Regions from separate parts of the Homo sapiens genome. Here region 1 is linked to region 2. A link means that fine-mapping ties the variant in region 2 to the expression of a gene that starts in the linked region. Tissue or cell type: whole blood. Region 2 holds a variant in brackets; the other region holds the start of a gene. All regions are shown on one strand. Distances are between the middles of the regions.

Region 1 (2,758 bases), 190 kb after region 2:
TTTATTGGAAAACTGGGACGTGACACCATCAGCTTACACAACAGAAAAACACAAACTAAGTTCCTGACAGCGGAATGATGAACCACCCAACTTGAGTTAAAAAGAAACAAAAGTACACCACTGTATCTTAATAAGTATCCAGTCTTTGGGTTAAAATTGTATTCTCTTTCCCCAGTTTTAGTCATTTTGTAACAAATTTTAACAAGCCTGATAGGTATTTCATGGCCATGTCTGAAGTTGGCTGAACTTAAGCATCCCTATATAACACACTTTACACTTAGTAACTTGCTAGTTACCTATGGTTAACAAATGTTTCATATGGTATGTTTTTAAAACTTTCAGTGAAACACTTTAACATTTTTAACCCAGCAAAACAAACAAAAACTGTGTCTAATAACCCACACGAGTAGAAAAATGACCTTAAGCTTAACCTTAAACACAGATATAATAAGTAAAACAAATGGAGAGAAGTCCATCTCTATTCAGGAGGCAGAAGAACCCCCCCTGCCCCCAACACACACAAAGACGGGTGGCAGTGGAGGGCAGGCTCATAAACCAGAGGTGTAATGGACAAGTCGAGCGATTCCTCCCGTTTTCCGCATTCTGCAACCCTCGGTCGCTCAGTGGTGCGGTTAGGGCAGCAATCTATAACCTTCATTCCAGAAGACCCCAGCACTTCTATGTGGTGTCCAAACACAACTGGTGAGCAAAGAAAGGGCTGAAAGACAGGCCAGGCCGTGCTACTCAGGGACGTCGGACCTAGGGCAAGAAACCTTTACCACTCTCATTCGAAATCGGAGCAATGGGTCTATTACGGAAAAGACTTCTTAGGAAGGTCTCCTAAGACAAAGGGCTGCGAGTCAGGAACCATCCCCAAGCTCGGGAGCCGGGACCGAACCGTCCCGGGCCCGTATCCGCGCAGCCTGCACCCCGCGCTGAGCTGGCGCCCGACCGAGCCGCCCACATTCCGAAGTATTCGGAGACCCCCACCTAGCCGGCCCGAGCTGACCCTCTCCCCAACCCGTACGCCCGCGGACCGAGCTCCTCACCCTGGTGATTGAACAGTCTCCATATTCTAGTGAAGAGAATTCCCATTCTCGGGCAGCGGACCCCCCCCCTCCAGACACCCGGGCCGCCTGGCTTCCCCCGGCTCAGGCTGAGGGGGAGGAGAGAGACGCGCTGGAGCCTCCGCCTCTGCTGCTGCTCCCGCGCTGGTCGCGGGCCCGCTTCCAGGGAACCGGAGGGAGGCCGAAGCCCAGGCCGCCCTGCCGCGCGCAAGGCCCCGCCGCTGCCGCCGCGGCACTCGCCTGGCTCGCGGACATCGCCGCCGCGTTGTCTGCGACGAGCCTCGCGGGCCACCGTCCTCCCCCAGCTCCTCTCGGGCGGCTGCGGTGGCGACGACCACGCGGGCGGGGGAAGTGAAGGGGCGGGCCTGGAGGGACGTGAGTGCGCAGGCGCGCGGCCAGAGGGGCGGAGCGTAGGAAAGGGCGCCCGCCCTGTCCTCGCTTATTTGCATAACCAAGACTGCGGAAGGCGCAGGACTTTACCCTGGGACTGAGGCTGTGAAGACCGCAAGTTGGGGCAGATGGCTTCCGACTGCTTGCTGTTGCGTCCCCGAGTATTTATATTTCCCTCGAATCTTCTCCACTGCGCCATAATGTAAACATATAATTGAGTACCCCATGTCCATCCCCAACCCTTCACATACACTACACTTAAAGTTCCACGTCATGACTCTTTAAGACATTGTGTCCCCTGTGGGTCTTTGAGGGAAAAGTCTGCTGCCCTCTGACACTCAGCTGAAGTCAGTGGCCTTACCTAGATAGTCACCTTAAAGCCATTTTTGCACTTCAGGGCTCTTTTCTCTCCAATCTCTTAACTCTCACGTCAGTATTGCCCAAAACAACGATTTTGATCAAGTCACTACCCTGTTTAAAAACCTTTAGTGGCCACCAAAGCTCCATCCCTTTCTGTTCTCGTTAACCTTAGTAAAAAGGAAAATAAAGAAAAATTGGGAGACTTGTAGGAGCCATTTGAACTGCTTTGCACTCCCATCCCCAACAGCTGAATGAAATTAAGCAAAATCAGCAATAAACCGCACCTTCCCAACTCACTTCTCCTAACTACCCAGTATTTTACCTCAAAATATAGAAAAGTAATTTCGTTGACTTCTTTTGGGGCTTTATGGTTAAAAAGCCAAAGTTTAGAGGAGCCATACATGAAGGGAAGGAAAATCATAGTAATCCATATTAATTTATGTATTATCATGTCTGGATTTACTTAATATTCTGTACACTGTTTAGAAGAACAATGTAGTTTGTATAACCAATTTGCATTAACTCTGTAATATTTCCATTCTCGCACACCGTAGGTAATGCTTTGGTAGCTCTAAGACTTTTTCAGACTCCCACACAGATGTCAACTTATGAAATGGATGTCATATACACATTATGTGATGGCGGAGCTTCATATTTTACAATCTACCCAAGGAAATGGTCTCCCAGGTTATTTTCCGAGTGAAGAAAGAAGAGAGAGAGAGAGACAGAGACAGAGAGTTTAAAGACCAATTTATCTATGATTACAGAGAAATGCAAAATGTCATTGGAGAGACTTCTGACTTCAGGCATGAGAGAGTAGGATGGTTTGAATATATCCTCCTACCATTAGCAAATAGAAAACTGCACAAAGTACAGGCAACGACATTTCAGATATTGAAAAACACATCACAGTACTGTGATTCTTTGCAAAAGAGAAAGGA
Region 2 (2,717 bases):
GAATGGAATTGACAACTCACGTCACTGATGATGTCCCTGGAGGCCTTGGCCGCCACGATGGGGATGGCGTCGCTTCGCAAGTCATAGCCTTTCTTCTTTGCTTCTTCATTAGCAAGTTTGTACAGACTCTAAATTTGGGGGAAAAAAAATCAGATGCTGACATTTATATCTAAAAACTGACAGAGGACTAAGACAATTCACTAAGTTCTCCACAGACAGTGCCTATAATAATCTTTCTTTTGAGAGTTCTAAGCCTTCTGCATGTTTGTTGAAGTGAAGACTCAAAAATGAGGCTAGGTGTGGTGGCTCACACCTGTAATCCCAGCACTTTGGGAGGCAGAGGCGGGTGGATCACCTGAGGTCAGGAGTTCGAGACCAGCATGGCCAACATGGTGAAACCCCATCTCTACTAAATATAAAAAAAATTAGCTGGGTGTGGTGGTGCATGCCTGCAATCCCAGTTACTTGGGAGACTGAGGCAGGAGAATTACTTGAACCTGGGAGGCGGAAGTTGCAGTGAGCTGAGATTGTGCCAATGCACTCCAGCCTGGGCAACAAGAGTGAAACTCCATCTCAAAAAACAAAACAAAACAAAAAAAAAAGATACCCATAAAGCCCAATGCACCTTTATTTTTTACTTTAAAAATTATGTTGAATTAAGTATATATACATATTACAGGTTGTTTTAAAAAATTTTAGTTAAAACAATAAATCCAGTTTAAAAATTACAGGAAAAATTAAGCTGAAACTCATAGTTCTAGCATGGTAAAATGTGGGTGGGAGGGAAAGGCTTAACTGTTGATCATGGCAATCAATTCAACTCACATTTATTCTGCCCTGACCCTGTGTCTCTGACTGTGCGGGGTACTTGGGAATCAAAGATGAGGTTGAGACCCCTCTCAACCTAAAGGTTCCTGGGAGAACTGATGGAGAGACTGATAACCTGTGGAAGCAACTGCTGAAAAGTCAAACCACACTAATAATGAAGAGCTCCAGGAAGGAGTCATTTATTCTGAACTGAGAATCAGGGAAGTTCTTGAAGATGGGGTGACCTTTGAGTTAGACTTTGAGCAGAGTTTCAGTAGACTAAGGTGGCATCAAGTGCAGAGGAAATCACGTGAATCAAGGCACCACTGTGGAGGGGAAGCGGAGGGGTGTTGAAGGAAGTGGGTGAGGCCCCAGGGAGGAGTTCACAGGAGAGGGCTGAGAATAGCCCAGAGTTGGACTGTGAACGCCTCATTCTAAGAAGTTGGTGTTTAATTCTACAGAAAATAGGAAAGCAGCCAAAAAGTTCTCTTCTTTTTAACATCAGAGGGGAGCGCCCATGGCAGCGTCCCAGTCTGGGTGGGTGGAATAGGGGGTTGCGGGCAAAATGGGGAAGGGCACCTGGGCCTCCTGGGACTGGCAGCCGAGTAGCCGCACTAACACATCTCTGAGCTTTTTCAGCAAAGACAGAGTTGAGAAATCCAGAAATGCTGACTAGCTAGACACAGGGGG[A/G]GCCCTTTGTTTCCTGAAATTCTTGCACATGTAATGCATGGTTTCCTGTAACAGGACCTATATTATAGGTTTGGCTAATAATTCAGTCCTTTCTGACAGGGGAGTAAGACTTGATGTTTTTAGTTTTTGGTGACAATTAAAAGCTAGCTATACAAGCACTAAAATTACAGTCTCACTTCCAAAATAATTACTTAAGATGGTGGCAATTCCATCTAAATTCTCTAAATTATGCTCTGTGTGTTGATTTATGCTGCCAAATAAACAATATTTTCCTTGCTGGTGGCACAAAGCCAGGTGAAATAACTAACACATCAGCTGACAGAATCTTAGATTCACAAAAATCTCCACAGGCTTATACCCACAGGCTCAGTCTAAGAAGAAGAAATTACAGAGATAAATGCCAATCTTTGAACAGAGATAAATTACCAAACGCATAAATGCAGGATGGAAGAAACCTAACTTTAGTCCACATAAGATGTCTTAGAGTTTAAGTTGGTCTCAAGTTCTGTGTGCACCAGCAGTGACAGCTGCCAATGTATCCTGGGAGCACAGGATGCAGAATAGAGGTCATATGTCCAGAAGAGGAAATACGATAGTTAAGTGTATTCTACATCAGTCATTCCCCACTCATAGTATTTTGCTCAGTTCTGAGAGTCACATTTTACTAGTGATGTCATGTGAGGAATGCCCCGCAGCTTGGGATATTGGATTTGAAGGTGAACCTGGGGTGAAGGTGGCAGGGGAGGCACCCTGGTGCTGCTCTCCATCTCTGGGGGTTGGCACAGATTTGTTCTGTGCAGCTTCAGAGGACTATGTGAGTTTACAGAGAGAAATGTTGTGACTCAATACATCAGAAGCTTTCTCATAAATTTTCCAGAACGAATGGACTGATTTATGAGATCAGCTCCTTGTCACTGGGAACCCTTAAGCAAAGGCAGGTCAAAAACCTATTTGTGGGGAGGGGTACCTTTGCACTAGGGTGGAGGCTTGACTCTCTGCCTAAGCCTCTATGATTCTGGAATGATGGCACGTGGCCCTGTGCACACTGAAAGTGAAAGGAAATGGGCTTGCTAATATTTACACTGACAGATATTTCTCTCTCTCTGTGTGTGTGTGTGTGTGTGTGTGTGTGTGTGGGTTACCTGGTAGTACTGTGGATTTTAGTTCTTGCCTTTAATCTTATATACTAAAAATCTTAAATTTGGATCCTAAACCACACT

What was found. PIP is the estimated chance that this variant, and not a neighbour inherited with it, causes the effect.
Region 1: it holds the start of ARL5A, and the variant in region 2 is fine-mapped to the expression of ARL5A in whole blood (INTERVAL, PIP above 0.99). The same link has a PIP of 0.9 or more in non-classical monocytes.

Annotation. Positions count from the first base shown.
Region 1 is chr2:151,827,082-151,829,839 of GRCh38, forward strand. It overlaps ARL5A (ARF like GTPase 5A), which reads right to left and starts at 1,340. Exons shown (of 6, transcript NM_012097.4): 1 at 1,050-1,340. The coding sequence starts at 1,095. RefSeq lists silencers at 956-1,005, 1,056-1,565 and an enhancer at 1,616-1,665.
Region 2 is chr2:151,636,207-151,638,923 of GRCh38, forward strand. It overlaps NEB (nebulin), which reads right to left. Exons shown (of 182, transcript NM_001164508.2): 64 at 21-128. Among named protein-coding and RNA genes, the nearest start is that of NEB, 97 kb to the right of the region's middle. The variant A/G (reference allele first, on the strand shown) is at 1,498.